Regions from separate parts of the Homo sapiens genome. Here region 2 is linked to region 1. The links come from fine-mapping of genetic effects on gene expression. A gene starts in region 1. The other region holds a variant in brackets. All regions are shown on one strand. Distances are between the middles of the regions. Region 1 holds the start of BRD7 (bromodomain containing 7). Region 2 overlaps ADCY7 (adenylate cyclase 7).

Evidence for each region. PIP is the estimated chance that this variant, and not a neighbour inherited with it, causes the effect. A credible set is the group of variants that fine-mapping cannot tell apart.
Region 2: its variant is the best candidate, but not a certain one, in a credible set for the expression of BRD7 in whole blood (INTERVAL, PIP 0.86).

What each region holds. Positions count from the first base shown.
Region 1 is chr16:50,365,036-50,379,960 of GRCh38, reverse strand. It overlaps BRD7 (bromodomain containing 7), which reads left to right and starts at 10,973. Exons shown (of 17, transcript NM_013263.5): 1 at 10,973-11,235; 2 at 11,663-11,871. The coding sequence starts at 11,187. RefSeq lists silencers at 4,929-5,223, 10,795-11,044, 11,075-11,584.
Region 2 is chr16:50,302,114-50,317,038 of GRCh38, reverse strand. It overlaps ADCY7 (adenylate cyclase 7), which reads right to left. Exons shown (of 26, transcript NM_001114.5): 11 at 12,488-12,679; 12 at 12,080-12,114; 13 at 11,453-11,536; 14 at 11,190-11,262; 15 at 9,892-9,989; 16 at 8,628-8,712; 17 at 8,247-8,372; 18 at 7,393-7,491; 19 at 6,159-6,352; 20 at 5,253-5,346; 21 at 4,848-5,003; 22 at 4,003-4,149; 23 at 2,977-3,081; 24 at 2,633-2,747; 2 more. The coding sequence ends at 1,534. It overlaps BRD7 (bromodomain containing 7), which reads left to right. Exons shown (of 17, transcript NM_013263.5): 17 at 1-1,082. Among named protein-coding and RNA genes, the nearest start is that of MIR6771, 17 kb to the right of the region's middle. RefSeq lists enhancers at 2,408-3,607, 6,907-7,201. The variant G/A (reference allele first, on the strand shown) is at 7,639.

The DNA.
Region 1 (14,925 bases):
AGAGTGGAAGCCAGGAAATATGGCAGCTCTTGCTGAGTCAATAGCCAGGGTGCACAGATGAGGGGCTATTCCTTCCTCATAGCGGGCTCTGGGGAGGCTTTCAGAAGCAGATTTTACCCCAGGTGAAAGAGGGACAGGCAGGCAGGAAGGAGAAGGCTGTATTCCCCACTCCACTCACTTTTCTCCTAAATAAAGGGGAGAAAAAAGTTTTTCCTTTTTCTGCCTCAGAAACTATAAAGAGATGCCCATTCATTGGTGCCTTCCAAAATGCCTATGTGTAGACTTAAACAACAATAACAACAGAACATCAGCAGTTCTGAGTGCAAATAATTCAATGATGTTGTAAAATCTGGCATAAATAGATCTGGCTGAGCCTCACAACTTTTCTTCCGGGGCTGACAATGTCAGCAACTCCAAGTCTGAACCCCTACTGGCTCTGAAAGGCAAGATCACAGTAGAGAGAGGAGGAGAAAACGCCCCTGGGTTGCATTTCCCCAGCAAATGGGCATGTTTGCCTCTCTGAGGAGCAGGCCAAGCATCAGCCAAGCCGACTGGAATTGGATTTGTAGGAAAGAACCTTTCTACCAGTTCTTTATCAGTGACCAGTCTCATGGGGGACAGGGTGAACATTTTGTGAAGCGTGTTATGTTTGTTAGCAGCAAGGTGCCTCGGGGCTCCTGTCAGCGCCAAGTAACAGGGCTCTGAGTAATTGGGCTCGGGGCTCCCCTCAGTAATAGGGCTCCAAGTAACAGGTAACAGTGCTCATCATTTACTTCCTCCTCTCATTGGGCCCTCACAACCTGCTCATTCTCAAGGCAGGTAGAGAAACTGAGTTTAGAAACAGGTGTTTGTTTTGTTTTGTTTTGTTTTGTTTTGTTTTGTTTAATGCTTGGTTACTTTGGGTACAGCATCCATTCTCCAATCCTCTGGTCACAGTACCCTAATTTTTCTAAGGGATCCCAACTTACTTAGGCCATGTGGTTTAGGTGGCACTCGTCTCCCTCCCAAGCTCCTGGGTTAGAAGACCCATGGTCTAGGATTCACTTGTCCCTGAATTCTGCCACCACCTTGACCACCCTCCACCCACATCCCACCCCTTCATGGTCATAGGCTCTAGGTGGGTACATGATATAAACCAGTCCAATCACATAGCCCTGTGACTTTTGATGGGCCACTGGGGAAAGGCACATTCCCTTTTTTTCTGGACTGGGATCTATGAGGATATCATCTGGGAGCTTCTAGAGGCCAATGGAGCCTGTCTGAGGATGGGACCAGGGCAGAAGGAAGTAGACCAGAGAGAGAGAAAGCCTGAATCTTGGGGACATCATTTGAGCACCTGGATATAGCCACACCTGAAGCTCAACCTCATTAGGGATGGGTTTCTGACTGTCACATGGAGGCCAAGCAATGCAAGAATGAGAACCAGGCTTTGTGATCTCCAGTTCAGTGTTCTTCCCCTAAATCAAGTTCCAGCTGACTTTATCCAGCCACACAACAAGCTCAACTAATCTGTGTGTGGCTTTATGGTCTGCTAAAAGATGTGTATTTTAAAAATAAAAACATCTGATCATTATAATGTTTTATCTAACCGAATTACAGAGCCGTGGAAGGGCCCCTGGAAGTCCTATCACTGAGTGGTTTTCAAAGATTTTCAGCAGCTTCTTGTTTCAAATGAAGTTTTAAGCAGAATGCCTATGTGTGAGAAATAAAAGCAGTAGCTTGTTAGTGCAAATGTGTTTTATCTTTTACGTTAAAAGTTCTTAACATTTGGCTGGGCACAGTGGCTCACGTCTGTAGTCCTAGCACTTCAGGAGGCCAAGGCAGGTGGATCACCTAAGGTCAGGAGTTCGAGACCAGCCTGGCCAACATGGGGAAACCCTGTCGCTACTGAAAATACAAGAATTAGCTGGGTGTGGTGGTGCATGCCTGTAAACCCAGCTACTCGGGAGGCTGAGGCAGGAGACTCACTTGAACCTGGGAGGCGGAGGTTGCAGTGAGCCAAGATCATGCCACTGTACTCCAGCCTAGGAGACAGAGTGAGACTCCATCTTAAAAAAAAAAAAAAGAAAAAAAAAGTTCTTAACATTTACTTTTTACAATCAATGAAGACCCAAATGTCAATGTGTTATTCATTTCCAATGTATAAAATTTTATTATATATTTGCATGTGTGGGAGGTTTTCAATCACTTTTTAAAAATTATTTATAATTGATACATAATAATTATACATATTTATGGGGTACAGAGTGATATTTTGATACATATATGCAATGTGTAATGATCAAATCAGAGTAATTAGCACATCCATCACCTTACACATTTATTATTTCTTTGTGTTGAAAACATTCAAAATCTTCTTTTCTAGCTATTTGAAATATACAATAAATTATTATTAACTATAGTCACCCTACAGTGCCAAAGAACACTAAAATGTATTCCTCCTATCTAGCTAAATATCCATCAGCAGACGAATGGATAAAGCAAATACACAGTGGAATACTACTCAGCCTTAAAAAAAGAAGGAAATCCTGTTGTTTGAAATAACATGGGTGACCTGGAAGACACGACATTAAGTGAAATAAGCCAGGCACAGAAAGAGAAATACTGCAGGATTAAAGGCTAAATCCTTTGCCCTCACTCATATGTGGAAGCTAAAGGAGTTGATCTCATGGAAGTAGAGGGTAGGCTAGAGCAGGAAGTAGGGTAGTAACTGGAGGCTGGGAAGAATAGGGAAGGCAGATAGAAAGAGGTTGCTTAACACACATCTATGCCAAGACGAAGAGAGAGGAGCTGAGCCACGTCCTGGCGGCCATGAAGAAAGCAGCTGCCAGGAAGGACTGAGCTCCCTGCCCTCTGCCCAAAATAAAAGCTTCACAGGAAAAACAAAAACAAAAAACAAACAAACACAAAAAAAAGTTGGTTAATGAATACAAAATTACTAGATAGAAGGAATAAGTTCTAGCATTCTATCACTGTTCTTTTTTAATAGTTAAAAATACTTTTTTGGGAGGCCGAGGCTGGCAGATCAGGAGGTCAGGAGGTCAGAAGATCGAGACCATCCTGGCTAACACGTTGAAACCCCGTCTCTACTAAAGATACGAAAAATTAGCTGGGCTTGGTGGCGGGCACCTATAGTCCCAGCTACTCGGGAGGCTGAGGCAGGAGAATGTCATGAACCCAGGAGGCGGAGCTTGCAGTGAGCCGAGATTGCACCACTGCACTCCAGCCTAGGCAACAGAGTGAGACTCAGTCTCAAAAAAAGAAAAAAAGAAAGAAAAAGAAACTTTTTAAATAATTGGGGTAAACGCCAGGTGCAGTGGCACACGCCTGTAGTCCCAGCTACTTGGAAGGTTGAGGCAGGAGGATTGCTTGCACCCAAGAGTTCAAGGTTGTTCTGCACTACGATCGCCCCTGTGAATAGCCACTGCACTCCAGCCTGGGCAACACAGCAAGACCCCATCTCTAAAATAAATGAATAAATAAAGTAAATGAAAAGTCCCTCAGATATTTTCCATCTTTCTGTGGGCTTATGAGTTAAAAAAAAAAAAAAAAAAAAAAAGAACCTTTTAGTTTATCTGGTTTTGTCAAAGGGTCTCCTTTTGATGTCTAGTTGTTCCAACTTCAGAAATGTTCCCTTTCTCTTGTCCAAGAAAATTAAGTCTAAGTATAAGCTAATGTTCCAGAATAGTGCTTCTCAAACTTTAATACACATATATGAATCACCCAGGAATCTTGTTTAAAATGTGAATTCCGATTCTACAATCCTGAGGTGGGACCTGAGACTCTGCATCTCTACCAAGCTCCCAGGTCCTGCCAATGCAGCCGTCCCTGGACCAATCTTTGAGTAGCCAGGCTCAATAAAGGGGTATCATGAATCTATCCCCTGAGGCAGGGAGAAAAGAATCACCACCAAACTCTAATAAAAAAAAAAAAAACACCACTGGAGAATATCTGGAATGACATATACCAAACTATTACAGAAAGTGGTGAGATTATGAGCAATTTGAAATATCTTCCTTACACCTATTTGTATTTTCAATTGGTCTATAACAAACATTAATTACTTAGGCAATAAATAGGTTTAAAACTAAATAACTGAATCAAGAAAAACCTAAAATACACACATATTTTTAAAAACAAAGTCTTTATCAGACACTGACAGAGCGTCAGAAGTGCTTCCCTAGAACCAACAGCTTGAAAGCAGCCAGTCGAGTCCTCTTTCTTTATCTTTTTACCTTTTTTTTTGTTTTTGAGACAGGATCTCACTGTGTTGCCCAGGCTGGAATGCAGTGGCACAATCATAGTTCACTGCAGCCTTCACCTCTTGGTCTCAAGTGATCCTCCTGCCTCAGCCTCCTGAGTAGCTGGGACCACAGGCATGCACCACTACACCTGGCTAATTTTTAATTTTTTATAGAAATGGGGTCTCGCTACGTCACCCAAGCCAGTCTTGAGCAATCCTCCCACCTCAGCCTCCAAAAGTGCTGGGATTACAGGCATGAGTCAGCGCATCTGACTGACTCCTCCTCTTTCTGCAGCCCTGTTTAGATGGAGATAGGGGAGAGACATGTCCAGGTTTCACAGCCAGTCTTTGGCAGAGCCAGGACTATGAAATTAGAGATCTGGGTGACATGGCACAAGCCCACAGCCACAGTCTGATAAGAGTTTATCAAACACATAGTGACTTTCTGTGAAGGGAATTTAATCCTGGGCCCCGTCCGCAGGGCAGTACTCCAAGGAATCATGATGGACCGGGAGCCCGGGCCTGCAGGATCATTTCTGAGCTGCTCATGGTCTGTCCCCAGCCTGGGGCTCCTGGAAAATGCCCAGCTTTCTCCAAGGTGACCATTTCATCTGGTTTATCCCACTTTACAGGGGGAAGTCCACACCCCACAGCCTGTCATTCAAGGCCTCAGTGTTCCCTTCTGTATCTCTGTCTCATCACACCTCCCACTCTCCAGCATCACCTCAGTGGCCTTGCATGCACAAGTCTACTTGTCTGATCCACCCTCCCCCAGCCCTTCCAGTGCTTAGAGGCTCCCTGCAGCCTGGCCGAGCTTTCCTTCCTCTACACACTCTCAGCCCGCCACTGCCCTCACCTGGCTCCAGTGCTCTGTCCTCCCCTGCTGGGTGTCCTACTCTCCTGCTTCTCCTCCTGCCTCCCTCCCCCTCCTCAGTCTCCTCTGCTGCTTCCTCATCCTTTATTCACCTGTTAGATAATATTGAAGCTCTTCAAGGCTCCATCTTCTCTGATCACTCTACTCTCTCCTCCTGGGTGGTCTCATTCACTCCTGAGGTTCCAAAGACATCTCTATGCCAAAAATCTATTTTCAGGTCTCACCTCCCTTCCAAGCCCCAGACACATGCATTCACCTTCCTACTTGGATTCTCCTCTTGGGTTCTGCATAGGCATCCCTAACCCCTCCTAAGTTCTTCCTCCTACATAACTCTTGAATTATCCCATTGCACCATCCCCACATCATCCACGCTAGACCAAGCCACCCCCATCTCCCCTTTGAAGACCACATCACTTCTAAGCTGGTCTCTCTGCCCGGTCTCCTAACCCACTCCAATTCTTCCTTCATTCAGAAGCCAAAGCGCTCTTGTTAAATTGCCAATATGGCCATGCACCCACGTCCACTGCCTTCATGGGCATCCCAAATAAAATCAAGCATCTCTGCCATGCCTTGAAAAGCTCTGCCCAGCCCAGCCTTTCTTCCAGACACAGTCCCCATCATCTCTCTTGCTCCAAACCTGCTCTCCTCTCCTCCCTGACTGCACCCAACTTTCCCTCGCCTTTGCACATGCTGACCTCTCTGCCTGTTTAGTAGATGCAGCTGATGCCCCCTTGGCTCACCTCTCCTGAAGGCACATCCTGCTGGAGGGGCATCACCAGCAGCTGGGAGTGTTGGCCACTCACGGAAGGCAGCCGCACACCTCCCTCAGAGAATTGCCCTGGGACAAACTAGAGTCACCTCTGTAATAGGCGACAATCAGGCAGACCTCGCTGCCCACCATGGGCTACAAAAGGCCAGCCACCTCCCACAGGGTGGGACTGTTCCCTGGACAGTTGATGTTCCCAATCCCCCCTCGCCCCGCCACCACTGTGGCACGGGGCTGAGGCTGGGACCACCTCTTTCTCTGCTTCTACCCACCCCGTCCTGCTTCTCTCCCAGCTTCTCCCCAATTGCCACCCCAACAGATCCACGCCTCAGGTTCCACTTGTAGGGCACCTAACCAAGACTTATCCTCCAGGTTAGGCCTGGATGAGCCCTCAGCCTGGGTCAGAGCACTATCTGGACAGCAGCTTGCTGTTTTCCTTTCTAACCGTTAGCATGGCCATGATTAAATATTTGTCTGTGTTCTCTGTCTAACATGCATCTCACTGTGCTCTCCATAAGGGCAGGGCTGTGTCTATTTTACTCCCACCGTGTTCCTAGCACCCCCCAGCACATAGTAGGCACACAGAAAATATGAACTGAAAGAAGGAAGGAAGGTCCTGATGTTGCCTCTGTCTTATTTGATCAAGGGCTCTGAGGCTAAATGACTTTTGGGGTTGGCAGCCGTGAGTGTCATGGCTTGGGCTCGCTGCCCTCCAGTAAGCAGCTCTGAGACCGTGTGGGCAGAGGCCATGTGGCATGCCTGCGTGGATGGCGGCCATCCACCGCCTCTCTCTTTTCCTCACTCAGAGGCAGCAGCTGGGGCTGCTCCGCCAGTGACCGTGAGCAACCCTGGAAGCTGCACTGTCAACAACCTGTCATAGCGAATCACCCCAGGCCACTGATTCCCCACAGAGCTGCCTGCTGAACCAGCCTCAGCCTCTTGAGGCCTCTCCCAGCAGCACTCACAGGCTGGCATCAGGCTGGCACCAGGAAGGCCCAGACCTGCTCCTGGTGCCAAATGAGGCACTAGCTGGAGCTGCTGGGAGCCTGGGCTCAGGGGATGCCACCTCCCACCCCAGGACAGAGGGCAGGAATCCCCATGGAGTATCCAGGAGAACCGGCCCTTTCCCACCCACCGTCTGCCCCATTACACTTGGGAAGGCCTGTGTTGTGCCAGAACATTTCTCACTCCTTGCTTTTGCTAACCCTCATGCCAGCCACACAGGCTGCATGAGGCTGGCTCTGCCCATCCCTCAGAGGAGAAAACTGAGATTCAGACAAAGGAAAGCAGGAGAAGAAGTTAGTAGCCCAAGGATTCTCTCCGTCTCAGGAGTTCCCCATCCTGCATCAGTGCTGCATAAGGGGGCTTTGAGGAGTACAGCCAAACAGAGGCGAGGGGGCTCAGAAGCCCCTGATGTTTGAGGCTTTTAGTCTGTCCAGATCATAGGTCAGCACCCAGCAGCCCTCTTTCATTTGTTGGCTATAGGGGAATAGCTATAAAGGGTTCCCAGTGGGTGTCCCAGAACCAAGGCCCCTGAGTTTCGCCCAGCCCTCATCCCACCCAACCAATGAAGGCCACACTCTACCTCAGGGTCAGGTGGCAAGGACATCAGCTGTGTCCCAGAGCGTCCTCTCTGTCAGAGCACCAAGGCCTGAAGGCACCCTGGGCAACAACTCCTCAGCAGAGAGGCCAGGCTGAAGAGGGGCCACCTCCAAGCTGAGCTGCGCAGAGATTTCCTGGGCATGCCACACCCCCCAGTGGCCAGGCTTTCTCCTCCACAGACTCTCCCGGAGGGCTCCAGTCACCTCGTGTCTCCACCAGAAAGGGGAGGAAGGAGGAAGAGAATTATTATCACAACACAGTAATTATGATGTATTCATTTGTCCAACAAATATTTCTCCAGGGCCTGTGCTGAGCCCAGCTCTGTGCTAAGTGCGGGGCACACAGCCAGGAGTGAGACAGACCTAGTCCCTAACCTTGGGGACCTGGGAAGCCAGTGGACAGATGGTGGACACGCACACAGATAGGGAAGAGATATTCAACATAATTTTGGAGGCTGTAGGTGCAATGGAGAGAAACAAGGCATTGCACAGGCTGAGGGAAGAGGGGAAGGGGTGTGTGGGTTGGTGGTCCAGAAGCTTCTCTGAGGTGGTCACAGGGGAGACCAAGGTGATGTGAGGGCAGGAGCCACTCCAGGAGCTCAGGGGAGAGTGTTCTGAACACAGGGAAGAGAAGCAGGGGCTTGGGGCAGGAGGGAGGAGGGGGCAGGGGGATGGGGCTGGAAAGAGAATGAGGGCCAGATCCGGCCCTGAAAGCCAAGGTGCAGATTTGGCTTTGACTTCGAGTGAGACAGGGAGCCACAAGATGGTTTTGAGCAGGAAAGTGACATTCACAAATATTTAAAAGTTAGTATTAGCAGCTGATATTTATTGACCATTTACTATCTACCATATCAGGCATTACTCTCGGCACTCTGACCACATTATCTTCTTTGATCCTTACAACCACCCTGTTGCAGCAGCACACCCAATGACCTCACCCTGGTTCCAAGGTTCAGAGGTAGGCAGCCCTCTCAGGACATGCCAAAGTCACAGACCCTGTAAGCATCTGTGACCCCAGGACTCAAGTCAGCTCTGTCTCACTCACTCAAGAGCTGTTGGGCTGTTGGGGGAGAAGTCTGGGCACAGCTTAACTGGGGCCTCTGCTTCTGGGACTCTCACAGGGCTGTGATCAGGATGTCAGCCAGGGCTGAGGTCTCATCTGAATGTTCCACTGAGGAAGGATCCACTTTGAAGCTCACACAGTTGCTGGCAGGATTCAATCCTTCAAGGCTGTTGGACTGATAGCCTCAGTTGTAGCCGGATGTCAACTGGGGCCCAGCCTCAGGTCTTTGTCACATGGGCTTCTCCAGCATGGCAGCTTACTTCATCAAAACATGCAAGCCAAGAAGGCAAGAGAGACGGTCAGCAAGTAAGACTGAAGTCTTATGTATCCTCAACACAGGAGTGACGTCCATCATCTTTGCCATATTCTATTGCTCTGAAGCCAGTCTCCAGGCCATTCTACACTCACTGGGAGGTCATGAATGGCAGCAGGCAGAAATCTCTCAGGGGAGTCTGCCCGAACCAGGACCGTGCAGCTCAACTAGCATTTTCTGGTGCCTTCTATGTGCCAGGCATGGTATTAGTGCTGAGAATTTAAAACTAGATGAATTTGGGCTTCCACTTCCAGGAACATTTTTCTGGGAGGTGTTTTCTGCTACGTACTCTTATTCACTTTCCATTGATGTGACCACTTTGTGACCTATGTAGAATCACTCTTGAGAGGGTAGGGAAATTACTAACTTGATAGTATGGATGAGTTCACCAGACCTTTTTCCTCTGAGGGGCATTTGGACAGTAGTAGTCACTGTGCTAGGCACTGTAAGTACCAAGGAGGTACCCAGGGTAATGAGGAGCAGACAGGTAAACCCACAGGTTGAGCCTGGAGCAAGGCAATGCCACAATAGAGGCCAGACCCACAGTGGGAGTTGGCATAGTGGTTCTTAAAGCAAAATAAGTTACAGACAGTGGATGAAAAGCTGAAACCAAGCTTTGCCCTATGCTTAGGGGGCCTAGGGGGCCTAGCTGGCTTGATTTCAGAGCAGCAGAAGGTCTCTTCCCCAACACAACCCCTCTTCCCACACCCTGATCTCTGCCTCACGGACACCAGAGAGGCTTGTTACAGGGAAATAATAGACACACACTTTTAGCTTTCATGAAAAAGCAACTCTCTTCATTAGAAGAACCTCATCTTCCCTGGCTAACCATAGAAGTCTGGCAGGAGCTGCCAATCACAGACTCCACTTCTCTTGGCCAAGGGGGTGAGGGGGTAGATTTGGCATCCAGGCCGAATCAATCTCCCATCCCCTGTCCCATAAAACATGTGACACAAGCCAAGCCAATCAGAGTCCTTCCCTGGGACTGTTTTCCAGGTGAAGCTGACAGGAAGAGATCTTTTTCCCAGTTGGTCAGGACACTATAAAGAAGAGGCCTCAGAAGCAGATGGTGGCCATGTTTCCAGCCATATAGGAAAGAAGGGGGGAGATGGAGACCGATATACAGAGAGACAAGAGAGAGAGCGAGCTGGCATGCCAGTCAACAGCATTACATCCTTGGTTCCTGTCTTCCCTCTGGCAAGCTTTATTCTTGCCCTTTCTAGACATGTAAACCAATAAATCCCTTTTTATTTACTTGAAATAATTCAAATTGGTTTCTATTAGTTGCCAACAATAGGGTCCTAAAATATAAGCCTATAATTTCACCACTGAAGTTCAAGGTAAAGCTACAAATCTTCCTGGGAGAGGTGATTCATGGGTCTAAATTGTTACTAAAGTATAAATGACTGATAACAGATCCTTTCTTAAGAGGAGACTATAATTACGAGCTTATCTGAAAACAGACAAAGCACCATACAGCTAGAAGTAAAGACAGTCAAAACGTCTGGTAACCTTCACCTATCAGCACATAAGTTTTTTTTAAGATTAGAATCTTCAGTCACCAATGTGCTGAGTTTGCTGGGTCTGGCACCCAGTATGGGGTTCAGTCAATATCGTAAAAGGGAAGAAACAGAAGCAAGGGAAAGTGGAAAGAAAGGAAGAGTGGGGGAAGGAGGAAGGGGAAAAAAAGAAAAGAAAAAAAGAGGGAAGGAGACGGGAAGAGGAGAAGGAAGGGTGATGAGGGAGGAAGAAAAGAGAGAAGGAAGGCTTGAAGGGAGGCAGTAAGGAGGGAAGAAAGAAAGGAAGGAAGGAGGAAGGAAGGGAAGAAGGGAAAGAGAAAGAAAGAGAGGGAGGGAGTAAAAAGAAGGGAGGGAAGTGGAGACGGAGGGAGAGACACACAGAGACAGAGACAAGACAGACAAATTGAGGGGAAAGGGAGGAAGGAAGAAAGACGAGAGTCTGAGCGGTGGATCCCGCCCCGGCCCCGCCCTCGGCCCCGCCCCCGGCCCGCGAGCTGCAGCACCACCTCCGGTCGCCAGGGGCCGCCACCCGCAGCCGCCGGCACCCTGTGCGCGCGGCGGGCCTTCTTTCCCGCCTCTGCGCCGGCCGCGCGCCCCCCCCGCCGCCGCTCTCGGGCTCCGGCCGGGTCTCGCGCGCCGTCTTCTCGAGAGGGGCATCGCGCCGCCCGGCGCGCGCCGCCCCCCTGCCTCGCGGCGCGGGGTCTCGCGGGCCCCGCTCCCGCCCTCCGCTCGCCTGGCCCGGACCGGAAGCGGCGCCGCACGGCCTGGGCCTGGCGCGGGGGGCGGGCACCGGGGCCCGGTCGGACATGGGCAAGAAGCACAAGAAGCACAAGTCGGACAAACACCTCTACGAGGGTGAGGAGGGGGCCGGGGTGCGGGCGGCGGGCCCTCGGCGGCTCTGCCGGGCTTCCGCTCTTTCCCAGTGGCTCCGGGGCGGCCCGGGGCCCTTCCTTCCCACGGCAGGCCCAGGCCGGCGAAGGGGGCGCGTCCTGCCGGAGGCCGCGCTGCCCCCCGTGCGGCCGCGGCATTCGAACCCGGGTCCCCCTGGTCCGGTGGGTCTCTGGTGGGGAGACGTGAGGCGGGCCCGGGAGGCCTGGGAGCGTTCGGGGCGGGCGGCGCCGCCGCACCCCCGGGCCGGGGTCCGTCATTCAACAGGTGCTTCGCGGAGCGCCCAAAGCCGCCTCGGGCTTGCTGCGCCTTGGCGCTCTGCATCCTTAGCACTCCCTGGAGAGCCCCGATTTTAATCGACGCGCTTTCCTTTCTTTTCTTTTCTTTTTTTAAGAGTATGTAGAGAAGCCCTTGAAGCTGGTCCTCAAAGTAGGAGGGAACGAAGTCACCGAACTCTCCACGGGCAGCTCGGGGCACGACTCCAGCCTCTTCGAAGACAAAAACGATCATGACAAACACAAGGACAGAAAGCGGAAAAAGAGAAAGAAAGGAGAGAAGCAGATTCCAGGGGAAGAAAAGGGGAGAAAACGGAGAAGAGTTAAGGTACAAGTGGTTACATTGCTTTGGCTTTGCGGACGGCACTGCCTCTTCCAGGTGCCAACCTCATTTTATTTTCTTTGTATCTGGGGAAAACAAACGCCTCTAAGATCTGGCTCGTTTGAGGAGGAGCAGGACAGAATAGAGACATGAATCATCTATGAGTTTCAGCAAGTCGTTTTTGGATTATACTCTTAGGCAATTGTACTCGCACATCAGGTGAGGAAGCAGCTAAGTCCAAATTTTGAGGAGCTGCTTCAAAGAATGGTTTTTCCATCTAGGCAGGGTAAAAAGTCATGCTCAAGAAAGCCTCAGTGTTCAAGGATTGTCAAAAATAGTCATTTCAGAAGCGAGTGGGATCTACTGGGGTTTAAAGTTTGTTCTGAAATAAATATTATAATGCCAAATCTGTAATGAGCAACTTTAAATCTTTTAAAACAGTGTTGTAGTGTGTTGAGAAAATTTGGTCAGAAACCTGTAATGGAGATTGATATTCTTAACCATTTGCATTTAACAGAAAAGAATGAGTAGCTACCATCTTGGTTTGAAAGCTGGGCAAAATAATAATTAATGGCTGGGCCCAGTAGCCCACACTTGTAATCCCAACACTTTGGAATGCCGAGGTGGGAGGATTGCTTGAGGCTGGAAGTTCGAGACCAGCCTGGGCAACATAGCAAGGCCCTGCCTCTGCAAAATAAACTACAAAAATTTCCAGAGCCTGGTGGTGTGCACCTGTGTCCCAGCTATTCAGGAGGCTGAGGTGGGAGGATCCCTTGAGCCCAGGAGTTTGAGGTACAGTGAGGTATGATCATACCACTGCACTCCAGCCTGGGCAATAATACGAGACTCTGTCTCTAATAATAATAACATTGTTATTACTGTTATTAACTTTCCAAATTTAACCTGCCACTGAACGACTTATTACATCAATTATTGTGAAGGTAAATTTTCATAGGTTAGTTATGTAATTTTTCTTATGTTTATATATACAAGAGGAGCTTTCTCTTCCATGTGATTGAACACATTGCTAAGTCACCAAGTCTTAGAGATCTTATTTTGGGGATTTCTTAAGTCTATTCCTTCCCTTTTGTCCCAGTTTTTATTACCTTTGGCTAGGTAGGAGTAATGTTTTGTTTTCTTCCTTAAATTATAAAACCCATATATGCATTTGATTTTTTAAAAGTAGTTCATGTGGTGCAAAAGTACACAAAATGGAAAAAGTTTTCCTCACCCCAATCCTTCACATAGACTCCCTCTTCAGAGGTAACCAGTTGTTTTTTTTAATTAATAGTAGTAAAGTAATTCGTGAAGATGATTTTTAAAAGTCAAGAGTACTACACAGCTTTTTGACACAAAGCAGGCTGCTGCTCCACTCTGGACACTTTTTAGGTATTTTTCCTTGCCTACTTATTTCTATTTCAAAATAAAGGTTTATATTGCTATTTACTGATTTAGCAGTTTATATCTTCTACTGACATCATGTTATGGAAGATGAGAATTCAGTTTCCCTTGCTCAAGGTATAGGTACATCACAATTATTGGTTAAATCAATATTAAAGTGATTGTAGACAAGTATAGTATGCAAATATAGATCTGATCTTAACTAGTTAGATCATTGCTTTCATTTGTTTGGTTATTGCTTAATAATTCTTCCCAAACTCTAAGATTTATGAAACTCATTTGAGTTCTTTACTTCCTTTTTTATTTTCCTCTGGAGACATTTATCTTACAGCTTTCTGTCTCCTGGAGGCTGAATTAGTTGCTGTCAAGGCCTCCTGGGACTCTCCTTCACCTGCTTCCTGGATCTCATGCCTTCCTCTTTCTTGATTCATTCCCTTGTTCTGGTGGACTCTTAACTCTAGGAACGTCCTAAGAAAGCATACACGGGGTAGATTTTATAAGTTCTAACATGTTTGAAAATCTGTATTCTGCCCTCATACAGGTTGATGGTTTGACTTGTTTAGATTGAAAATTATTTTCTTTCAGACTTTTGAAGGCATTGCTTTGTTGTTTTCTGGCTTCTAAATTTGCTGTTGAGAAGTCTGTTGCCATTCTGATTCTTAGTCCTTTGCATATGACCAGTATTTGCTAACTTGAAATTTTTAGGATCTTCCCCCCTTATCTTCAGTGTTCTGACATTTCACAATGAATACTTGTGCCTTCAGTTCAGAGCTGTGTGCTTGAAGTATTCCTGTGTTCATTTCTTTCCCTCCATTTTTTCTTTTCTTGGTTTCTGGAACTCCTGCCCTTTAGATATTAGACTCCTGAACTGATCCTCTAATTTTCTTATGTTTTTCTCATATTTTTTCTGGGTGTGTGTGGGGTGGGGGAGGGTTCTTCCTTCAGGGAACATCCCTAAAATTTCTGACTTTTCCAGATTTATTTCAGATCTTATACCTTGAATTTCCAAGAATTTTTTCTTGTTCTCTAACTGTCCTTTTTGAATTAGCACCCTGTTCTTGGTTTTAGATGCAGTATATTCTTTTCTTTCTCTGAGGATATTAATCGAAGTTTTTTCCTGTTTTTTTCTCCTAAGTTTTCTTTTGCTCCCTGCCCTGTCTCTCTCTCCCAAATTCTTCCATTTATTTGTCTGTCTCTGTTTTCTGTTGAAAGCATCCTTTAGTTGTCTGTTGAGCTTTTGCAGTTTGTACAAAGCTGAGTAAATGCTTTGTACCTAGACAGAGTTTGTCAGTTGATGGACTTTATTGTAGAGTGACTAACAGGGACTCAGTCATTTTGGTGAAGAATGCCCCAATGTCTGTACCTTACAGATGTTTTCTCTGGGATTTTTAGTTTCTCCAGAGAAAAATCCTCCTCTCCTAGGAGATGGATTTTGCCAGTTTTATCCGTGTTTCTGGAGCCAACTATGGGGCAGGGGCTGAAGGTCTTACCACCCAGTTTTCTGAGTCTGGCATTTCTCCTTATTTTGGCTCGTCTCGAGATTTGGAGACTCTCAGGTTCCCTGCCTCCTCCAGTTCTGAGCTTTTCCAGGGTTCTGGAATTTAGGCTTTTTTCAAAGGTGTCCACCTCTCTGCATACGGGAGTATCTTGCTTTCTCTG
Region 2 (14,925 bases), 63 kb after region 1:
CTTAATTTGCAGCCCGGGGCAACTCATCCCAGGACCCCAACAAGTCTGGTCAGTCACCCAATCTGCAACCCTGTATAATCATCTTGTAAAGGCTCCTGTATGCAAGACTTTGTGTAGAACTTTACGGGGTTCATGGGGACACCTAGCTAAGAATCCCTGCTATGTAGGGAAACTGAGTGCATTAGAAATCCTGGCGATGCTCTGGTGATGAGGCCACCGGTTAAGTCTTCCGGTTATGAAGTCCATTCAGAAAAAGTCACGGGCAGTTTGGTCATTTCTCACCCTGTTGTTACAGTTAGGTTGACTTTCAATTCCTTGGGAAGTTGAAGCACAGTAAGACACATCCCCAAAACCTGGCTTTTTGCATTTGCCTTGACTCACGCAGTTTCAGAGCAAGAACGGCTCAGCATTTGTGAGGGGGCGGGCTTCCCAGATCCAGGAGCCTCTGCATGCACCCATGCGGAGTAGATCCTTCTAGTTTTGAAGCTCTCCAGAGTTAGCTGTGAAGACTAAAGGAAAGAAGAGATGCACTCACAGGTTGTCCAAGTTGTCTCTAAACAGACTCCATTCCTTTCTGGTAAGAAAAGTAAGATACAGTTGAAGGACGGCAGGGGAGAACGCAAAGATGTGTGAGTAATCAAGGAAGAGGTGAAAGGCCGCACCTTACTTTCAAAGCACCTCTCTCCAGAATGCTTGCCTCACAAGCTGCCTCATTCAAAGGCAAGGCTCTGCTGCTCCCCGCCTTCTTGCTGTGACCACATTCCTCAGGACTCTATCCCCACAGCCAGCTGACCCCATAAGCTGATGCTAGACAGTAGTCCTCCTTACATGTCAGTGGTTAAAAAGGCAGAGCATACACTGGAGGGAAGAGATTTATGTCTAGTGTCTGAAAAGTCATTCAAAAGGATAAAAACCCCATTAATGTATTCATTTAAAACAAACATGCCAGACAAGGCAAAAAGTAACAGTGTTAATTGTGGTGTTTTTCTCTCTACCTGTTTGAAACCGTTTACAGATGTAAAACACCCCTTTCAGCTTCATTTACCAGAATGCCTCTGTGAGAAATGCTGTCATTGCCAGGCCCACCAGGGAGAGGGAGTCTCCAATCCGTGCTAGACAGCTCAGCTTACTCCCCCTTGGTGTCTAGAAAAACAGACCTCACTTGTGCGTGCCCACAGGCCACTGAGGTGGAAGTCTGTTTTCATCATGTGCTAAAGTTGCCTGCCTGGCACCTCAGGGAACAAAGATCTCAAAGTCAGCCCCGAACCAGTGAACATTCTCCAGCTGGCCTGGAAACTGTTACAGACCAGGCACAGAGCTTCTGGCCTCCCCTGCGCATTATGGCTCAGTGGCTGCTTCGAGCCAGAATCTGGTGCATGTGTCTGAGAAATCCTCCAGTGCAGGTCCAAAGAAGCCAACATGCACAGCCATCTGCATGCCTTTGGGATTGGCGTGGGGCGGAGAGTCTTCTCCTGGGCTTGCTTCAGGGAAGGAGACTGGCTTCCCGGCCTTTTCGGAATCCAGCAGGAGCCCTCAGTTCAGCCCCAGCCCCTGAAACTTGGCAGTGTCCGTACAGACAAAGTAAGTCCTCAGCTCGCCTTTGCCTTTGACGTTGATCAGGCCACGGCATTCACAAGAGTACCCGAGGCCCTGGAGGATGGTGCAGGTCTCCTCGGTAACCTGAAAAGGAAGAGAGACCTGTTGTCTTCAGAGGCGGGAAGAACACCTGTCATGGTAGGGACAGATAGAGACTGCCCAGGCATGCAGTCTGCCTTCCCTGGAGAGTGTGATAGCTAGAACCATGGCTGCTGGGTGAGACAGCAGCTCTTAAGTCCAAGTCCCCTCACCTCTGGGGAAGATCTTTTCCCCTTAGTCAACTGCTTCCCCAATAGGTCTTTACCTGGATTTTCCCAAGTTCTCCAGTGCTTTCCATTCGGCTGGCCACATTGACAGTGTTTCCCCAGATGTCATACTGAGGTTTTCGGGCCCCAATCACTCCAGCAATCACAGGCCCATGGTTTATGCCTGAAGATGATGTTTACAGTTACCCAAGCGTGCAGGCAAAGCCTCAAGCTTCTGCCCTTAGAGGAGGCCAGAGAATCCATACCCCAGCACAGGATGCGGGGACAAAACAACTAGAGTGAAGGCTGGGTTGCTTCCCAGAGTCACTGCGTTGCAGTCGGGCTTGGGGTATGAGGAGGGCATTCCCCGGCCAGCTCTTTTTCAGACTCAGAAGTCTGGGTTTGATGTTAACACTTGTATCTGCTAATCTCTCTTTTAACAAAGAATACTTTGTTAAAAGTATTAACAAAGGCCTGGCTTTGAGCGCAGGCCCGCAACTATTTAGGTTTAGTAACTTTGCTTCCTTCTCTATATTTTAAGGTCACCTGTTTACAGACAATAATTTTGGTTCTCCATTTTCTGTAGTTACGTATTATTAAAACTCTCAATGGTAACTATATGCTAACTATATGCAAAACATCAGAATAATTGTCCAACTGCTGAGCTTGTCAGATCAGAGGGATTTCTAAAACCTTTCATAATAGATGGCGAGGTGCAGCTGTGCCACACAGACTGGGTGGACTGGCCTAGAGGCAGGGGCTCCCCACCCCGCTCCATCACCCGGGCTCACCGACGCGGAGGCGGAAGGAGTTGAAGGAGTGCCTGTTGATGCCGTCCAGCTTACTCATCAGGGCGATGCTGAACTCCACCATGACACCAATGTGGGCATGCTGCCGCTCCAGCTCCTGCGGGACAGGCTGTGGGTCAGATCCTTGCATCTCCAGAGCCCCCAGACCTAGTGGGCCCTGGCGCGCCACTCTTGTTGAGGATCCCCACCACTAAAATCCTGGCTGAGCCCTACAAGTACCTGTGCCCCTCCCCCAGGACGAGATAAGGGCACACCCTTTAAGTAAGGTGACAGGTCACCTTTAAGTGAGGACAGTCAGCTGAATTTCACCTCTTGGGCTTGAGTACCTGGTTCTCGTGCCCTGAGGCGACGCTGAGCCCTGCAGCTGCCATGTACGTGCTGCCGATGGTCTTGATCTTCTCCACGCCGCTGAACTTGGGCTTCAGTAGGAGCTGCAGGCAAGAAGGAAGCGGTGAAGCAGCCGCCACTCCATAGCCGCAGCCAGGCTGCCCCTGCTTCTCAGGAAGGGTGTGGGGTTCCCTCCACCCATCGCCGCCTCTCGCACACACGTCTCATGGCTGCCCTGCCAGCTGAGCGCATGACTAAGCATGGTGAGGACATGGCCCTTGGCGGCTCCTGCTCTTCCTGTTGTCTCCGTCCCCACACTGTCTCCCTCTTCCCTTCCATCTGTGTCTGCACAGAGCAAACACAGCATTATCTACACAGGAATGTAGATTCTTTGTCTCCAGCAAAGAATTCAACCCAAACTGATTTCCTCTGTTTGGCTTGGTTGATAGCGTGGGCTTAGTTGGAAATGAAGCTAAGGGGCCTGAGTCTAATCTTAGCAAGCTGCCCATCACAGAGAAGATGCCAACGAATTATTTGCTGCATAAAACAGAATGAAAAAGAAATGTGTACCTTTATATTCTGTGTAATGTATGTTCCCCCCAGGCGGGCCACGTCGTTTTTTTTTTGTTGTTGTTGTTGTTGTTTGAGACAGAGTTGTGTACTGTTGCCCAGGCTGTAGTGCAGTGGCGTGATCCCAGCTCACTGCAACCGCCTCCCAGGTTCAAGCGATTCTCCTGCCTCAGCCTCCCAAGTAGCTGGGATTACAGGTGTGCGCCCCAAGCCCAGCTTGTAATTTTTTGTATTTTCAGTAGAGACAGGGTTTCGCCATGTTGGCCAGGCTGGTCTCGAACTCCTAGCCTCAAGTGATCCACCCACCTTGACCTCCCAAAGTGCTGGGATTATAGACCACCTTGCCCAGCTCTGTGTCACATTTTTAAATTGGGTTTTAGGATGGCAGGTGCCACCGCCCTTCCCTCTCCAGCATGGGTGGGGGCTGCTGCGCAAGGCTGGGCTAGAGGCTGTACCTCGTCGAAGTCGGCAATGATCTCATTGAGCAGGCGTAGGCACTCCAGCCCTTCTTTGTTGACATCGCACTCTGTGTAGAACACTTTGAAGTCCGGCACGGAGGCAAACATGACACAGACGCAGTCATAGGACTGATGGTACCAGTCCTGGATGGGAAGAAACCGGACCTTACACCACTTCACCTCTTGAGGGGACAGGAAGAGTGGCAAGGCCTCAGGAGCAGATGGCACTGCTGAACTGCCCAGCCCAGCTTTCGGGGAGTGGGGAGGGGGGCGGGCTGCATGAGTTTCATCTGGTGGCTGTTACCGGGTGATTAAGAATTGGGTGGCCAGGGAGGGTCAGGCTCAGGTTGGTTTTTGCTCACAGAAGCACCATGGGTGTTTCCATGTACACATGGGGTGAGAACCTCTGCAGTAGTGGAGGGTAACGGGAGGTCTTCATTCTCACTGGGCCTCCGTTTCCTATCTAGAAAACTTGCTACACATAACTAGTAGAAGTACAGACATTTTCATCAACACAGAATGTCCAGATCACAAACCCCTGAACACACATTTCATCCTCGCCACAAGCCTGTGGGGAAGGGCTGTCAGCCCATTTTACAGAGGTGAAGACCAAGGCCTGGGAAAGCAAGGTGCCTTGTTCACGACCACACTTGAGCCCAGGTCCCTGACCCCAGGCCCATGCTCTCACAGCTGATGCCATACATTGTCGCCTGGGCATCCCGGTGAGGCCAGGACCTGAGGAAGCCAAGCTCAGCATGCACTCCAGCTCCACACCTTCACCCTACGGACTGCGCCTGGACCGTCCGCCTCCCTGCCCCCGCCCCAGCCCCTTCTCAGCACACCTCGTTTAACTTGTCACCGATAAAGTGGGCAGCCACGTGGGCTGGCAGGACGTTCTCCAGAAGAAGGCGGTTCACGTTCTCCATGGTCTCAAACTCCTCGTGCTCCTTCTTGAACTTCTTCTTCCATAGGCAGTCCAAGCGGCAGTAATAGTCAATCTGCAAACGGCAGCAACATAAGCGCCCCGTCCACAGGCAAGTGGGAGCCGTGCTGCTGTGCATCTCCTAGCCAGGTCTGTCTGTCCCTGGCGTCCTTGGAGCCTCTGGCCAGGGGACCAGTGCTTTCCTGGCAGGACTCTAGTCTTTTCTGCTACTCCACCTGAGCCCACCCCACCCCACCCCATCTCCAGATGGAGGTGAGGAAAAGTGGGCAGAGCTTGGGGGGGGGGGGGGGGCCAGCCTCCTTACCTGTCTGGAGAGTGTAAGCAGGGTGATGTAGAACAGGACCAGGTAGAAATTGGTCATGGTCTTCAGGTCCTTCCAGGAACAGCTAGGGGTGCCACTGAATGCGAAGGGAGGCCCAAGTCACTCCCAGCACTCACCACTCCAACCCACTGAGTCATGCTCTCCAGGTGCCACGCACACCCAGGGGAAAGGGGAAAATTGATTCTAATGGGGTGGGTAGAAAACAAGACAACTTTGGGGTATTATAAAGGGGGGAGGGGAGAGGTGGGCAGGGAGATGGGGGAGCCCTTGTGGGGAAGACCTCTGATCTCACCCCTGAATGACCAGAATCAGCTGTGATGAGGGCCTGAAGGGAGCCCAGAACTGGTGAGCCAGGGTCAGTGGCAGGCGGGGTGGGGTGGATGGGTGGCATAAGGATTTTGCAGGTGCGGGGCAGACCCACAGGAGCAGGTTCTGTTCTGGGTCCCAGGCTTCCAGCTTTTTTGTTTAGGGGGGCCAGGTCCGCTCCTTAATCCACTTGGGACCCAGAACCCCTAGAACCACACACCCCAGCCCTGCCAGCCTCAGGTATCACCACCTGTCCAGGAAGAGATGGAAGCAACTGCTCCTTCCAGAACTCGAGACCCAGGATGTGGCCTTGAGAGGCACAGAGCTAGAGCTGCAGCCTCCTTCCCTCCCCACCACTAGACTGGCCTGGAAACAGGATGACCCGGTGGCCTCTGTCAGACTAGGGACTTCCTAAAGAACCTGCCAGTGAATTCCTCGGCTCTGAGCGCTGGACACCATCTGCCAGCCCCGCCCTGCAAGGTGCCCACTCCCCATGAACACAGAAGCCCCTTGGTGCGAGCAGGCAGGCACCAGATGAACAGGCCACCATGGGGATGGGGACGGGGACGGGCGGGACCCCACCTGGTGGTGCCGTTGGGCTTGGTGAGGTTGCCCAGGCCTTGGCCGCAGCAGTCCCACTGCCAGCATGGGGAGAGGTTGAAGAGCACCAGGTAGGCCACCAGGGCCACTGTCAGCAGCACAACCTTTGGCTCCAGGCTCATCCTCAGGAAGACCGAGCAGGCGATGAAGCCCAGGACACAGCTGCAGGTGTAGTACTGAGGGGGCAGGGTGTCACTCAGGACAGGGCCACCCCACCACGTACTCTCGCCTCCAGCCCAGCACATACCACAGAGCCCCACTCCCTGCACCTCAGCATCACGCTCTTGCCTTACCACCTCCCTTCTCAACAAAAAACAATGAGACCTAAGAGTGTCCAGTGTTGTTTTCACTGTAGTTTTATTTCTTATGAAGTGAGCTCATTTAAACGGGAAAAAACAGTATGCAGGTGCTGTGGATACAACAGACCACAGTCAAGGTCAAGGCCGGAGCGTGCATGCATCCAAGCTGCCTCCCTGAGTTTTTGTGAGCTTACCCTCCCAAAGGACCTCTGCCCTGCTCAAGATTGTGCTGTGGCTCCCCAGCCCCCAGAATAAAGACCACGCTCTTCACACCCCGGCATTCCTGCACCTCCCAGTCTGGATCAAGCCTGCCCCCGGCTCCATCTCCCAGTTCTCCCCACTCCCTCTCCAGGAGACAACCCACCCAAAACCCCACTGCTCCCAACACACGCCTCGGCTTTTTCCCATGCTGTCCCTTGTCCCAGAACCTTTCTGCCTTTTAGAGCCCAGCTCACTGCACTGCCAGCCTCTGAAGCTGCAGAGTCTGCTGTCTGCAAGGCCCTCCAGGCAGAGACCTTGACCTCTGCCATCAGCCTGTCTGGGCCTGCCCTGGCGCCATCACCTAATGAAGCCCCTCCCTGAGCTGTGCATACTCGTGTATAAAATAGTGACAGGCCTGTCAGAGAGGAAGTGCCCTGACCAGAGACCCGCACAAGGCCAGATGCTCCCCTCACTCCCTGCCTACCCACACAGCCTAGACCAAGCCTGCCAAGGCCAGGACTCCTCACTCCCTTGGGCCAGAGGCCAGCTGGGCCCATGGGACCCTGCTTTCCCAGCTCTGCAGGAGAGGCTGTTCTCAGCCTCCACATGCTGTGCTCTCAGGGGTCAGCACCCATGCTTTGAGGGTCCAAACTACACCTCTGGCAGCAGCAGCCCCACTCTGAATGAGGCCACGGAGCCGGGCCCGGCGCACTCACCGGGAGGGGCTCACACAGGGCTCTTGTCTTGCTGCTCGCGGCCAGTAGGCCTGTCTCATTGCCAACAGGCAGCTCTGGAACTTGGAAAGGCATCAGGGGCTGTAGAGGAGACAGGTCCCCATCAGTCCAGGGACAAGAACGCTGGAACCTGCCCAAGCCATGCAAGGTGGGCCCCAGGCAACCATGAGTATCACAGCAGCCTGAGGTTTCACGTTGGGATCAGCTCTGAGCACGGCTCAAGCCGCC[G/A]TGCCGACTCCCCACAGCAGCCGTCAGGTTCAGAGGGCAGAGGGGCTAGGAGATGAGGGTGCAGACACCCCCAGAGCGGCAGCAGCCAGGGGGAGGGGCCGGGACCAACATTTTCAGCCTCCCCAGGTGACCCTGAGGGAGGTGGTCACAGGAACACATTCCAAAAACCCAGGGTCCGGGGCAGAGAGGTGAGGGAGAGGCCCTAGCCCAGGATGCGGGGTCTGGGAGAGAGGTGGACAAGTGTCCCGCAGGCTGCTTTCTGCAGCACTGAGCCTCTGAGCCCCAGCAGAGGAGCAAGGGTTCATCCCTGAGAGGGGAAACTGAGTCTCAGAAGGGCCGTGAAGAATGAATGGGATGTCAGGATGTGGTGGCTCAAGGCATCACATCCTCCTGGAGCTGGCCACACAAGCTCTCTGGGCCCCCAAAGTCCGCATTTGAGAACCCAAAGGTGAGGAGCCCTGAGTGTACAAAGGGGAACCCCCCACATCCACCTGCTGAGCTCGGGGGAGAGGACAACCAGAGGCAGCTTTTAAGGCCACATTGTAGGCGTCCCAAATCTGGAGGTCTCCCTCTACCCCGGAGGCCTGCCTCCCCACCACGGGACCCACCAGGTTGATGATGGCCACAGTGAGCAGGCTGCCGATGGTCAGGACGGCCAGGGTCAGCCTCAGCAGGGGCTGTGTCTCCACCCTCTCAGAGATAGTGCAGAGCGTCCCCCGAGCTGGGCAGCACCTCTGTGGGGTAACAGGGTCAAGTCACCCAGAGCCAACAGCCTGGGCAAGGAGGGCTGGTCGCTGGCAGCCTGGGGAGGGGTATCCTCGGGAGAAGCCTCCAGGGCACTCAGGAAATTGTCCCCGAGGCAGGAGAGATGGGCACCCAACCTTGACCAGAGCAGGGGCTCAGCCCAGCCAAGCTCACCAGGGAGGGCTCCTAGGCAGGTGTCCTGAGGCAGGGAGGGAGGGCCCGCGGGGCCAGAGCTCCCCACTTACCGAGAACTTGGTGGCAAAGCACAGGCCCAGCACCAGCCCCAGTACACAGGCCACCAGCCCGAAGGACACACCCAGTGCCGCCGTCCTGGAGAGGAGGGAAGAACCTCAGTTCTGCCTAGGGCCTTCTGCCCAGGACCACCGCCCCCACCAATCCTCTGGCTCACAGCCACCTGTCCCCACCCTACCTGGTATTCTGCCCACAGCAAAGGGGACCTGTGAAAACTGTGGCCCAGCTGCCCCATGGGCAATACACAGGGCCCAGCTAGATTATGAAGATTGAGGTCAAGACCATATCACTCTTTTTGGTCCAAGTGTATAAGAAATGAGCAATGTCTCTGCAGCCTTTAGACTCAGAAAAAACTGTAAAAACGCATTCCCTATTACATCTTTCTTCGTTTTTTTTTTTTTTTTTTTTTGAGATGGAGTCTCACTCTGTCACCCAGGCTGGAGTGCAGTGGCATGATCTCGGCTCACTGCAACCTCCGCCTCCCAGGTTCACACCATTCTCCTGCCTCAGCCTCCCGAGTAGCTGGGATTACAGGCGCCAGCCACCACGCCCAGCTAATTTTTGTATTTTTGGTAGAGACGGGGTTTCACCATGTTGGCCAGGCTGGTCTCAAACCCCTGACCTCGAGTGATTCGCCCCGCAGCCTCCCAAAGTGCTGGGATTACAGGCGTGAGTCACCACGCACAGCCTCCCTATTATGTCTTTAGTAAGCATAGCCAAAACCACAATCCTGGTCGATGCTTCGGCCTAACTGCTCTTCTAGAAAGCACCAAGTAGCTGACCTTAGATCCCCCTTCCCTCTGACTTCACCCTCATCCCTATACCCCACCAGCAGGGCCCTAGAGCCAGAAGCATGAATCTCAGTGAGTTTTGGATAAATCATTAATCCTCTGTGCCCCAATTTCCCTATATATAAGAGAAAAAGGATGGCGCCTACAGTTTTCAGAGTCTATCCTCCTAGCACTCCAAACACCTAAGGCAAGGGCTGTCAACCAAAATGCATGCAGGCCACACATATGACAGGTGGCTGAGGAGAGAGACGTTAGGGAGTAGGGAGGCCTGTGGCAGAAAACACACATTCTATTAAAAAGAAGTGTTGGTAACTCAAGGTGTGCTGCCACAGCCCCTGGTCCAGTTGCTAGGACCCCAGCAGCCGACCCCTTCCAGCCCAAATCACACAGCTCCTTGCAGGTTCATAGTCACCTTCCAGCCTGGATCCCAGCAGGCCGGACCCCCACACCCCTCCCTGCAACTGACCTGGGCATGAGCAGGACATGGACGAGCAGGATGCAGACGAAGATCAGGCTGGCGCAGGCAAAGTCGTGGCGGGCCCGGGGGATGGGTGCCAGGCGGTACTGGGGGCAGCAGGGACTGTGAGGGGTGGCCACCAGCAGTGCCACTTGCCCACCCTGCCTCCAGTGAATCAGCTTTAAAAAAAACACCTCCCTGCTGGGACAGTGGCTCACGCTTGTAATCCCAGCACTTTGGGAGCCGAGGAAGGAGGTTCACTTGAGCCCAGTAGTTTGAGACCAGCCTGGGCAACATAGTGAGTCCCCATCTCTATTTTTAAAATAATTAAAACCTTCCCACCCTCCTTCAGTTCCAGGTGATGTTACACTTGGTAAGTTTCGCCTGTTTCCATTCTCAGCTTTTTCCTGTTTGAAGACAATGCCTTCCCCTGCCCTACACCACCCGTCTCTCTCTTTCCAAGGTCCCTGCAGAGCTCATGGCCCCAAGTACATGGACAGGAGCCAAGTCTGAGCTTCCGGGGCTGTCCTCACCTCAAACCAAGAAGCTGGCAGGTAGGGAGACCATCCCGCCCCCCACCCCCACTCCCACCCAGGCACCATCGCAGGATCACAGCCCCAGAAGGGTTCCTGCTGCAGGGAAGGAAAGCAGGCTCGGCGGCCCTGGCCACACTGGCCACACCCTGCCAGGTCACTTGGCCAGCAGGTTTCCTCGTGACCTCACCTAGGAAGCCCCCAACTCAGGGAGCCACACCTGAAGCTGGGGACAGGCTCTGAAGCCTCTGAGAGCCAGTTTCCTCTCTGTGAAGTGGTATAGCAGCACCCCTGGGCTGGCCGTTGTGACGGTTAAATTATATAATGTGGGTGCCGAGGATGCTGCCAGAACCCAGAAGGCGCTCAGTAAAGAAATGGTCGTTATCAGTACAAAAAGCTCATAGCAGCAAGACAGGACACTGATAACTGAGCTTTGGGTTCTCGTCTCATTGCAAGGCCGGTGCCATCAGCCTGAGGCATCCATGCCAGGATCTGCTAAGGCTTTGGCACTGGACGGAGCAAAAGTCTTGCAGACCCATGGAGGCAAATCTCTGATGGTGCATTTGGGTCATGGAATGAAGCCGACAGGAGAGAGCCAGGCTGGTGCTGCACTGGCCCCGCCCCTGCCCCCCGCCCAGGAGCAGCTGTGGATTCTCAGTGCCCCTCCCCTAGCCGGTCTTGGGAACGCAGGCTGCCCCATGACCTGCGTCCCCCACCCTACCCCAGGCCTGGAGACCCCGTCCCTCTGCGGAGGAGGCTGCTGGGGGCCCTCACCTCGCGCTCAAAGCCCTTCTCCAGGAAGATGGACCCAAAGGTGTAGAAGTCATCGGACTTGGAGCAGCAGGGCCTGTGGGCGGGGGCAGCTGCGGTGAGATGGGGGCTGGGAAGGGGTCCATTCCCTCAGGAGGTGGCAGCAGGCAGGGGGAAGGAACAAGGCTGGGCCACCAGGCATGGGGTATGAGATGGGCCTGCCCATATAGGGGACCCCTATCCGAGGGGGAGAGGAGAGGGGGGTGGACAGAGGTCTCAGACCTCACCTCGTGGAGCTGAGCCCCTCAATGGCTGACAGCATCTCGTCATCGTACGAGTCATCCTCCGACCGCCCCTTGGGGGACATGCTTCTGGAATCAGATACCCACAACTGCATCAGCACAGCGACCACCTCCAACTCTCCCAGAGGAGGGTGTGGACGTAGACACCAGTGGGGTCCCAGAACCTCAGGTGGGATGGTGAAGGAATGGGTGGGTCCCACTGAGGCCCAGAGAGGGCGAGTGAGGACCCAGCATGGCCCAGCATGGCCCAGCTGGCCAGCAGCCAAGCCAGAGGCAGAGGGCAGACCCGAGCCCCAGTCTAAGGCATCTTCGGCTACACCCCCGGGATTGGCATGGGGACCAGGACACCCACAGTCATCTCCTTCCCTTCCACCGACTCCACTGACCCCGCCAGGGCACCATACAACAGGTGCTCCATCATGTGGCCATGCAGAAGGGCCAGGGGCCAGGAAACTCTGGTTCCTAGAAATGCTTTGACCCAAGCCCTGGCCAACTTCACAGAGGTCCTGGGCTGGGCCTTGCGGAGCTGCCCACTGGACAGAGGCTGCTCAGGGCAGCCTGCTTGGAGGAGGTGGCTGCAGCAGGACTTGGCCAGGAGGGCAGGGCACGCACCTGTCTGGGGTCCGGCGGTGGCGCTGGGGAACGCTCTGAAAGGGAAGGGAGGAAAGGATACAGTCATTCCCCAGAACACTGGGCCCTGAAGGCCACTGCTGGGCCAGGTTCAGCCCCTCCGGCACTTGATACACAGGACAAGGTGTCGGGGTCGTCCAAGCCACAGACATCCTGACTATAGCTGAGCGTGGTCCAGGCATCAAGGAGGACAGGGATGTTCCTGGCCATCCCGGAGTATTCTCCAAATGTCTTTGCTTCCTCTCCAGCCCCAGGAGGTGGGGCAGAGGCTGTGGCCATTTTACAGATGGGGACAGTGAGGCTGAGAGGGCAGGAGATCTTCAGCACTCACTCTCCTGCTCCTGGCTTGGGGCCCCAATCCCTGGCTTTCTGGGTGGGAGGGGGACCTACCTTAGGCCTCCGCCCGTTGGGGACGTGGGTCTCACCACTGCTCACGCTCTCACGGTGGTTGAGATGTGCAAAGGGCCGTGCCGCCCCCCAGGACTCGAGGTACCGGGTCATGCGCACTGACGCCCGCATCTTCAGGGCCGCGTCCCCCTTGGGCCTGGGGAGGTGTTGGCTGGGCGGGGGTGGCTGCTGGCTCTGCGGGCAGACATGGACATGGGCCTGTGCCACCTCCTCCCCTCTCGGCCCAGGAAGGGGCCGCCATCCCCATCCAGCTCTCCCTGAAGTGTGACGCCGCCCTGAGCCCGTGAAAAAATAAACAGCAAAGAAGTTGCTCAACCCGCAGTCCCCTTGGAGAGCGGCTGCCCTTGGGGACTAGCCAGCCAAAGCCTGGTGCACTCTGAGGCCAGGCCATATGGGGTCCCAGCTCGGTGCCCTGGCCTTTCCCCAGGCCGAGAAGAGGCTAGCAAGTACCCACCACTGTACCCAACCCCATACCCTGCTCTGCCTCCCCAGGGAGAGAGGCAGGGCTTGGGTCCCAAGCCCGAGGCCCCACTGCCCTTGAGGCTCCTTGGAACCAGAGAGTCCCTGGGGCCTGAGCACCCATCAGCTCCTCCCCAGGAGGCGCCTGGGAAAGCCACAGGCATCCTACCCTGCCCTCCCACGTGTGGCCGGCACGCATTCGCTCCTTCCTGTGAGAAGCAGCCAGGAGGAAGAGGGGTGCTAGCCGCCCCGAGAAATGGCCAAGCCAGAGGCCAGCCAACCCCCAGGGCAGCGATCCAGGGAGTTCCACTTGTGTGGCCCCCAACCGCAGATGGCACAGGGCCATGACCTGCCACGTGCCTGCGAGACCCAGCCTCATGCTGGACACTCAGTAGTTCAGCCAGGCCCTGAATGCACGGCCAGCCCTACCCGCCCCCACTCATGCCACAGACCTGAGACCCCCACCCCGATCCAAGAACACATGCCTGAGGCCTTCGCCAGTTGGGGTGGCCAGACAGGACTGGAAAAGGGACAGGGAAGAGAAAGACCCACAAGGCCACCAGAGATGAGCTTAAGCGGGCTCCAGGTCTGCTGAGTCTCTCCTTAGCCCCTGAAACATTCCTCTGCCTCCGGAAGTCCTGTCTCCTAGGGCCCCACAAACACCCCATGGACAAGCCTCCACAGCTACAAGCACTCGATAAGCCACAGCGCAACTTTCCTGGAAACCTCTCACCTCCTTTTGGGATAGAAACATTTTTAAGCCCTTAGCTGCATCTATCTGCCTAGCCACGGGAGCCACGTGGAATTCAGCCTCGGTGAGTGTCCCAGAGCAGGAAGAGCGCGCTGGCCCTGTGGTGAGCAACCTGGTGGGGGTGGATGCGTTTCTCTGTCCCCTCCTCCATTGTGACAACTCTGCCTACACAGCACCTAGCCACTCAAGTTCAAGGTCACTGGCACTTAGCAGAGAATCCAGACACCCCAGCCCCCTGAGAAACAAATAAAAAGCAGAAACAAAAATCAGATTCCTCAGTTCTGAGCAAACACATGCCTACTCGGAATGGGCATGGCATTGGTATGAGCCCCACGGGGGCAGCTGCAGCCACCATCCAGTCCACAGGAGCCCACCTTGCCCCAGCCAGGCCACACAGCAATGGCGTAAGGCAGAGCCCATAGAAGCCAGTGCAGAAAATCCACCTCCATGTCAAAAACAGGAGCTACAGACGAGCACCCTGCACACAGGAGGGATGTCCCCAAGGTAGGAAAAATGCAGGGTGCGCGACCATGGGGCCCGCCACTGCCACCTTAGCAAGAAGGGTGGGGGGACTCGCAGTTCACTCGGTGTCCGTGAAAATCCCTGTGGAGGGAATACAAGAAACTCACTGCACAGGTCCCCTCTGAGATGTGCCGGCTGGGGACAAGGAGTCTTTCTACAACACGCCCTTCACACCTTTTGAACTTTCAACTGCGTGGATAAATGAAGTTAAACAAAAAAGAGGGTGGGGTAGGGTGGGGTGGGGGGAAGGTGGGGCCGCCAAATAAATACAACTGTCCAGTTGAGTACTGCGTGCAACACTTATGCGAAACATGATTTACAGTTATCTGAAATTCAAGTCGGCCCAGGCAGCCTGCAGTTTTCCCTGCTCAACCTGGCAGCCTGCGGGGGTGGATTTTGGAGCCTCCTGGGTGAGGAGCTCTGCTTCACTCATTCAAGGGCTATCTGAGCACTAGCTTCGAGCCGGGCATCCATCTCAGCACGGGGTGGGGGGCTGCAGCCTGGAGAGGAGGAGCCCCCCGGCATGGCACTCATGCTGACAACAGACAAGGAAAATGGATAAACAAGCAAGGGCATTAGGGACGGAGGGAGGAGTGTTTTGAGTGCAGGGACCTGCGGGTGCCACCACCCTGGTAGTGGAAGGGCAGGAGGAGACCAGGTGGGGTGAGGGGGACAGGAGAGCAGGGGA